Homo sapiens: one gene and its partner. The protein of the gene in region 2 interacts with the protein of the main gene of each other region in a pairwise test. Each region holds a gene or a part of one and is shown on either strand. Other genes may lie near its edges.

Region 1 (3,500 bases), on a different chromosome or scaffold from region 2:
TTCCTGATCTCAAAAAATAAAATTTTAACACAAGAATTACTTGTTAATGTTGCTAAAATGAATCAAATTCCACACTCTGGGTTAGGCCCAGATTTTTCAACAAGGTCATTATCAGGATGAAATAAGCAAAAGTAAGGTGGTATCATTGATATTGTTGGTATTGCCACAACTGTTATACAGAAACAGTGACCTGGTAAAGGATGCTCTCCAACATTCGGTAGCGTCATTCAGATAAGAAAGCAAAGTAACATTTTAGATGTCTTTCTTAGTGTTTTTAATCAGAAGTCAGATCCCAAAATTAAGAAAATCCCTTTTTAAGTCCCACATTGTAAGCTGAGTCATTACGAGAAATACAGAAATAAGAGATAAGACAGATGCGGGGAAGGAGATACTTCATTCTGATTGCCTGTCAATTCATCATAAGTTAATAACCAATCAGTTGGCATGCATGGGACGGAACTAGGATGGAAGAAAATCCAGTCCAATCCAATTGGGAAGTTTTAATAGGGATAAAAATAGAAATTGTGTATTGTGTCATATGATTCCATTATGTTTATTTGTAAATCTCATCCAAATGTGTAAACTTAGTTTATTTTGTACAAGTTAACAATTTTAAACTGTCTATCCCATTGTTACCCTAGTACGTGAAACATAGCAACCACGATTTTTAAAGAGTTTACAACCTTGCCTACAATATTATGTAAATAATAGTCAGTCAATTTAGCTACAATGGTTGTATAGAAAATGAAGAAGGGGAGGAGAGGCTTACCACTAGTTCACTGCAACAACCTGTTGAGGAGTCCTTTTTTGACAACCCTAAAAATATATCTTCAGTTCCCACCTGCTGTCTGAATATAATCTCATACCTGAAAAAAAATCAATGATTATAGGGACTCAGATGAAAGAGCAATTTCCTGTCACAGAAAAGAAAACTAGTAACTTATGAGGATATGCTATTAGGTAAAATAAAAGGACTAAACAAATAAAGTGCTTGCAGGTCTTCAGGCATATAATAGAACATAAAGGAAAAGAAGTCTAGAAATGTGGTCAAAATAAACACTGAAAGGCAGGATTGTTATTATTTTCTAAAATAAAGCTTTAACTGTTTCAGAGCTAGACAAATAAAATAGATTGAGGGAACTTGTAATAAGATTCTAATAAGATTAAAAGCAGAAGAAAAAAAAGGAAAGTCTGTTCCTGAAAAACAATAGCTCAGAAAAATACTGAGTCCATAACCTAGGGATTGATAGAAACCTTCCTCTGCCAAGTTTAAACCACAGAGCAGAGGAGAAAATTCAGGTTTAGTACTGTTTCTGTCATTAACTGTGGACCTTGGTCAAGTCACAAACTCATGGGGTCTCAGTTTCTACATTTGTATGATTTATGGGAGGGAGGGGTGAGTTTGAACTGAATGATCTCCACGGCTAAAATTCTACAATAGAAACACTGGTAATGTAGTCAGCACAGCTACACCATAGTGCTTAGAATCTAGTCTTACAGAATTCTGAGTGTAATGAAAGGTTTTCCTGATATTTCACCCCACACATGACAATTCACAAATCATTCCTCCCTCCAAATTTGGGCCTCCAGGAATACAATGGTTTATAGAAGCACCCACCACAAGGTACCCCATCTCTTCAGATAGAATGAAACAAATATTTACAAATTATTATTATTATTATTATTATTATTATTATTATGCTTAATGCTACCTTAATGAAGAAATTGTAGATCTCTGGATAGTAAGACTAAAGGACTTGATTGAACTTCTGACCATTTGCCAATAGGAATGCCCAAAAATAAAAAAGGGATTTCTCTGAGTTTGAACATGGCTAACAATAAGCAGCTATTTGCTATGGGGCACTTTTCTCTTAATAGGCTATAACATCTACCAATTATTTATGAAGGTGAAGCCAGGTTAAAACAAACAGAGGATTGATCTATATGTTCATTGCTCCTAATGGATTTGCTCAAGCTCCTGCTCTTATCCTGAGCTCCAGACGCAATTTTCCAACTGTCTACTACAAAGGTTTGCCTGGATGTCCCAAAGACAACTCAAAGTGTACATATCAAAAACCAGCTAGTCATGGTGGCTCTCAACTGTAATCTAGTGCTTAGGGAGGCTGAGGCAGGAAGATTGCTTGAGTCCAGGAGTTTGAGACCAGCCTGGGCAGCACGGTTAGACGCAGTCTTCACAAAAATAAAGTGTGCACCTGTAGTCCCAGCTACTTGGGAGAGTAAGGTGGGAGAATTGCTTGAGCCCGGGAGGTTGAGGCTGCAGTGAACAATGGGCGGGGCCGGGGGGGCGGTGGTTGGCGAAGAAAAAAAACAAATTTGGTTGGGCACTGTGGCTCAGGCCTGTAATCCCAGCACTTTGGGAGGCTGAGGCAGGTGGACTGCTTGAGGCCAGGAGTTCAGGACCAGCCTGGCCAACTTGGTGAAACCTCGTCTCTACAAAAAACACAAAAAACATTAGCCAGGCCTGGTGGCATGCACCTGTAGTCTCAGCTACTTGTGAGGCTGAGGCAGGAGAATCGCTTGAACCCGGAAGGCAGAGGTTGCAGTGAGCCGAGATCACACCACTGCACTCCAGCCTGAGCGACAGAGCAAGACTCTGTCTCAGAAAAAAGGAAGAAAGAAAGAAAGAAAGAAAAAGAAAGAAAGAAAGAAAGAAAGAAAGAAAGAAAGAAAGAAAGAAAGAAAGAAAGGGAGAAAGAAAGAAAACAAAAACAAACTCACTGCTTCTTCTTAACCTATAATTCCTATCAAAGTTAATGGCATTATCATTTCCTCAGTCACCCAAGCTAATAACTTCAGCATCATCTTTGACGCTCTCCTCTCATCCATTTTATCTAACCAAATACCAACTCTTCATCCAAAACTCACTCAAATAAAGACCCTCATACTTCTCCCCAAGGCCAGTGCCTTAGCTCAGCTCCTTGTTATTCTTTTACTTGGCCACTTGTGATTCTTCTTTTTTGAACTGCCTGTTCATGTTCTTTACCTATTTTCCTCTGCATCCACTGAGAAATGTTGAAATGTATTTTCATAAGGTAGAAGATGAAGATTTTTAAAATCTTATAAAGCAATTTTCCTCATAATAACCTGAAGTTATTATTCATTTAAAGCTTTCATGGATGTTCTATCTACCTAACATCAAACATCAGGATGAAAAGGGAAAAATTACTCAAATTTGAAGTTTGCTGCATATGGATATTTGACATTTGTTAGACAATATGACAAATAAGTGACTTAATTATTACTTTTCATATGATACGTGGACACTATATAAACATAACTTCAAATTTACTCTCTTCGTTCTCTAAGAAATGTTTTAAAATCTCCTTTGATTTTTTATGAGGTTTATGGTCTTGACATTGTTTATTTGAAAGCTGGATACTTCTTTCTAGTTAATTGTCTGCAGTCTCCCACTGCTTCTGTTTTCAGAACTTATGTAGAAGGCAGAAGCATGGAGTTTTTGTTTATTTGCTTGTTTTATA
Region 2 (5,631 bases):
CCTAATTTTCGGGCAACGCTAATCTCTTTTTTTTTTTTTGAGAAGGAATCTGGCTCTGTAGCCCAGGCTGGAGTGCAGTGGCGAGATCTCGGCTCACTGCAAGCTCCGCATCCCGGGTTCAGGCCATCCTCCTGCCTCAGCCTCCCAAGTAGCTGGGACCACAGGCACCCGCCACCACACCTGGCTAGTTTTTTGTATTTTTAGTAGAGACGGGTTTCACCGTGTTAGCCAGGATGGTCTCGATCTCCTTACCTCGTGATCCGCCGGCCTTGGCCTCCCAAAGTGCTGGGATTACAGGCGTGAGCCACCGCGCCCAGCCAACACTAATCTCTTTACGGAATTTTAGGACAGTTAATATTTCTCAATGACTGAGTGGGTTTTGAAGGTACTGTCTTTTGTTCTGGATGTTGTGTTTCAAAGAGTAGCACTCTTTTTCTGTGGATTTTTTTCTCGTTCACTTTTTTAAAAGCCTGTCATGTTTTTATGGAAGAGCTATTTCTGTGCTTAGTTTCCTTGGGCTCAGTAGTAAGCCCAAGGAAAACATTTTGAGACACTTGTGTGTTTTGGGGATAGTGTCAATTCTTGACTTTTTCACCTGTGGATTTCTTTGAATGGCAAATTTTAGTTTCAAGCTGGCCTTCTCCATGCACGAAGCACAGTTCTGTGCTAACTAAACTTCCTTTCTCTCCTGTTGGTGCAGACTCATTTTAATACTATTTTACGTAAAATAGGTGGAAAATAGCCCAGGAGATAAAAATCATATGCTAAAATCAAATCTAAAATATTTTTTGCACTGTTTATTTCATATGCATAACTGAAGAGAAACTGTAATATTTTTAGGACATTTCCACCAGAATTTCCAACAGATGGGAAATAGTAAGTTAGTACCATTATTCCCTCAATTGTCTGGTCAAGAAATTTGAGAATGTTCTTTGACTTCCCTTTTCCTCCCACACCCCATGTCCAGCCAGTTACCAAATCCAATCCTGTATATTCTGCCTTTCTAATCTTTCTCCAGCTGATCATTTTTCTTTCTATACCAGTTACCACAATCCTAGAACATGCCACCATCTCTAGTCCAAGACACCTTTAGAGAGACGCTTCCCTTTTGTCACTGTAAAGCTACATCCAATCTTTTGAAAATACACACTCAACCCTAGGAAAGGAAGTACTCATCTCCTTGAACATTGTATCACCTGATAAGTCTCATAGTAAGTTTATGTATCAATGTATTTGGTATTTGGACATGTTTAGTACAAGACAGGAGCCTCTCTCCTTTTCCTGCCTTCCATGGCATCTCATTTCAATCTGTTCTTCGCTTCAGTCATATTATTTACTGATTTGAAGATTTGAACATGAACATGGTAATCTTTCTAATTAATACCTTTAGTTGTTTCCTATTGCCTTAGGATAAAGTCCACATTCTCAAACAAACATATCTTACCAAGTCCTTTGTGATCTGGTTCCTGTGTCATCTTTTTAGATTCATCTTGTGTCAACTTCTCTGTACTTCCCCTTCACCTTCTTCTCTCTTCTATCCTCCACCCTCCCCAGAATTCATTTTGTTACCCCCTACTGTTTATCTTTGGAACACTTCTTAGCCCCATCTCAGGTATGGCTAGTTCTGACCTTAGTGTGTTTTTTTGTTTGATTTTTTTTTTTTTTGAGACAGAGTTTTGCTCTTGTTGCCCACGCTGGAGTGCAATGGTGCGTTCTTGACTCACCATAACCTCCACCTCCCGGGTTCAAACGATTCTCCTGCCTCAGCCTCCCGAGTAGCTGGGATTACAGGCATGCACCACCACACCCGGCTAATTTTGTATTTTTAGTAGAGATGGGGTTTCTCCATGTTGGTCAGGCTGGCCTCGAACTCCTGACTTCAGGCGATCCACCTGCCTCAATTTTTTGATCTAAGCTTATATATTACCTTGTTCAGGACATTTTCTCTGGTTTTACTTCATCTGAGCTATTTGCACCAATACATATTCCTATCAGTCATAATATTTATATTTTGTAATTGGTTAATTGTTCTCTTACTTGCTGGATTAACATAAACTCTGAGAGAAGGAAATGTGTCTTTGATTTTTCCATGCTCAGAATGCCTGGCTCCTAGTGGGTGTTCAGTACATTTAAAAAAAAAATGAATGAATGATTTTGCTTCTTGCTTTGGTACCTTTTGAGTTGCCATATGAGTTGCCTCATAAAGCAAAATAATGGTATTCAAAGATATAACAATTATTATTTAAATTATTCACAAGAAACACTGAAAGCCTGTAACATATACTAATTTGTTTTTTGCTGAGGTTGACTTTGTGGAAGCAAGTCAAGTAACTAGTGAATGACTAGCTGACTTTCCAGCATCCGCATCTTAGGGACAACATTGTTCTCTACTCCTACATTTGTAGGAGTATGATTTTACCGTAATTTGTGCATAGTAGACTATTTCCAGTGTTTTTCAGTGAGTACTTTTGAGTTTAACTGCCTTTTTTCTTTTTTTTTTTTTTTTTTTGCAGTAAGGAAAACTTTCACTATAGCTTTTTAATATTGGCCATTTTCTAATTTTAACAATCATCGGAATATTTTTTTCTTTTTAAAGCTATCTCCTATAGGAAGGCAATTAGAATAATTTTTGAAGTTTATAATATAGTAAATTCTGTGATAGCATGGCCATTTATAATGCAAAATTGATATGATGTATTTTATGTGGTCAAATTTTTTAGACCCTGCTTAATAGGCTTGGTTTTACTGTACTTTCAGTTGTAAGAATGTGGCAGATTATGAAATGCATGGCCAACTCTTGATCTGTAGCTGAATTACATCTTGCAAAAATAACTTTGTTACTCTCTAAAATTGTAAATACAATCATAGCATTTGAAGTTCTCTGTCAAATCCAGTGAAATATCACTGGAAAATGATATGACTCTTTTAAACCCTTAGTAAAAGACCCAAAATCCAAATGTAGGAGTAGAGAACAATGTTGTCCTTAAGATGCGGATGCCGGAAAGTCAGCTAGTCATTCACTAGCTACTTGACTTGCTTCCACAAAGTCAACCTCAGCAAAAAACAAATTAGTGTATGTTACAGGCTTTCAGTGTTTCTTGTGAATAATTTAAATAATAAGTGTTATATTTTTGAACACCATTATTTTGCTTTATGGGGCTTTTTCTCATTATCATGTGTTACTTAGTTGGGATTTTGCCACCAACGGTAAAAGCAACCTTTGCGATCGCAGCACTGCACTCCAGCCTGGGCAACAGAGCAAGAATCCATCCCCCCCCCCCCCGCCCCCCAAAAAAAGCAACCTGAGATGGATTTCTTTGGCATTTTTGTTGTTTGTTTGTTTGTTTGTTTTTGGAGGCAGAGTCTCACTCTGTCCTCCAAGCTGGAAAGCTGGAGTGCAGTGGCACAATCACGGCCTCAAGTGATCCTCCCACCTCAGCCTCCCCAGTTGCTAGGACCACAGATGCATACCACCATGCCTGGCTAATTTTTTTTGTATATTTTGTAGAAGTGGGGTTTCATCATGTTGCCCAGGCTGGTTGCAAACTCCTGGGCTCCAGTGATCCACGTGGCTTTGCCCCTAAAGTGCTGGGATTACTGGTGTGAGCCACTGCGCCTGGTTTAGGTTTATTCATTGGTGGGGAATCTGTAGCTGTGTTGGGAACCATGACTTAATACAATTTTTTAAACAGCTTGTTTTTGCTACCTTTGCCTGTTTATGCCACAATTAATGGAACTGATCATTGTATATTGGCTAGTTAATAGGAACATAGTTTTTCCTTAATCAGCTAGAGAAAGTTTCAGAAATATATAGTTTTCCCTCAGCGATCTGTGCTGTAAAGGTCATGTCTAAAATGTCTAGACAGTACTTATAATATGACTGTTTTAAAAGCCATACCTTAGATTTCTCACATATCTTTGCATTTGAAAATGTTACAGTGTTCAGAAAGGGTTCAGAAAAAACAAAAACACATCCTCTTGTGGAAGAAACAAATTGCTACATATAGCAGACCTTTGCTCAATTTTGTTAATTTTCTCTTTGCACTGTTGATACTTCAGAGCAACATTGTTTCAACAGGCCTATTCTGTCAAATAAAAGGAAGTTTCTTGATGTAGGGGACGTTCAGTGGGTCCTGGACAGGAAAATGTTAATGTAGAAAAAACTACCTTAATTACCAATAAAGGACAACACAGGTTTTCCAGGCCTATTCCTCCCTGTTAATTTATTTTTAATAATTTTTTTTTAATAGAGATGAGGTCTCTCTGTGTTGGCCAGGGTGGTCTTAAACTCTTGCCTCAAGCATTCCTCCCGCATTGGCCTCCCAAATGCTGGGATTACAAGCATGAGCCACCTCACCTGGCCCTTATTGTTAATTTCAATCCATTATAAGATGACAGAAGGAACTATTGTAAATTATAATTCATCAAATATCTCATACTTTAAAAATTTAGAGATAAACTAGAAAAAGTAGAAGAGGCATTAATCAAAGCTTTTCCATTTCAATCCCAATGGTAAATTCCTCCTTATTTCTTTGGCGTATTTCTCAAGGTACTAGTTTGAATTATTATTTTAAAAATTTTTTAATTGTGACACACATAAAAATAGACTGTTCTAACCATTTAAAAATACACTTTAAAATGTATTATGAATTTTACATATTAATACATAATATGTATTAATAAGAAGTTTTAAAACCACCCATACTGCTGCTAAAGAACCTAGATTAGTATGTACTATGTTTTGTCATTAAGATAAAGTCATGCAAGAGGCTATAGGTTGTTCGATCAGGGATGGAGGGTAGAAAAAAATGTCTTGAAGGAAATAGCATAGCTTGGTTGTACATTTTCACCATTCTTCATTTAACCAATATTTACTGAGTGCTTTCTATGTTATAGGTGCTAGAGGTATAGCAGAGAAAAAAACTGTACTCTCCATTCTCATGGAGTTTATGGTCCAGGGTAGAGTGGGGTAACTTATCTAGCAAGCACCTGCCCTTACACCTGGCTTTGGTATGGTTTCACACCTTCATATTGATTCTTAGTGTTCTGTGTGATATCTTTATGTTTAAAACAACATAACATTAACATAGTTTCAAATTACCCACAACATGACCTAGAAAGTATATGTTTAAAAACACTAGAGAATTTGTTGGAAGTTGTTTCTTTTGACCTTAATGATAATATGTGCACTGTACTAAGTTCCACGTATTAAGTACACACTGTACACTATACTAAGTAATGGTCATTATCTTTCCTTACTTCCTGAGTAACACAGAAAAGTAAACATTCAAATCATCTATATTTAAAATTTTACTGTACTTTTGCCACGTGTAAAAAATGTATAACTAAATGGCTACTCTTGACTGGTCATGCTTTTTTAGTTAAGGCCACAAAGCTGTCTTTTTGAGGTATTCTGTCAGTTGACCTTTCCTAATTTATCAGAGAGGTTAAATATATTTTGAAAATATCAGTGAGGCTTTTTGCCCCTCCCCTCCCGAGATGTTTTAGAGTGGAAATACAGTATGTATTTGTTTATTAACTATGACGTAGTAATCTAGGACATGTTTTATTGTTTAAAATGCATGACATTTCTTTCTGTTTATTTTTATGGCTTTACTGTTATGAATTAAC

What was found. Proteins that work in one complex are often made in the same cells at the same time.
Region 1: the proteins of BTAF1 (region 2) and DNAAF6 interact in a two-hybrid assay, tested with the Homo sapiens proteins (one large-scale study listed by BioGRID).

What each region holds. Positions count from the first base shown.
Region 1 is NC_000023.11:107,220,111-107,223,610, reverse strand, and holds part of DNAAF6 (dynein axonemal assembly factor 6), read right to left. Parts: intron 867-3,500; coding exon 770-866; intron 1-769. UniProt on the Homo sapiens protein: Plays a role in cytoplasmic pre-assembly of axonemal dynein.
Region 2 is NC_000010.11:91,925,491-91,931,121, forward strand, and holds part of BTAF1 (TATA-binding protein-associated factor 172), read left to right. Parts: intron 1-5,631. UniProt on the Homo sapiens protein: Regulates transcription in association with TATA binding protein (TBP). Removes TBP from the TATA box in an ATP-dependent manner.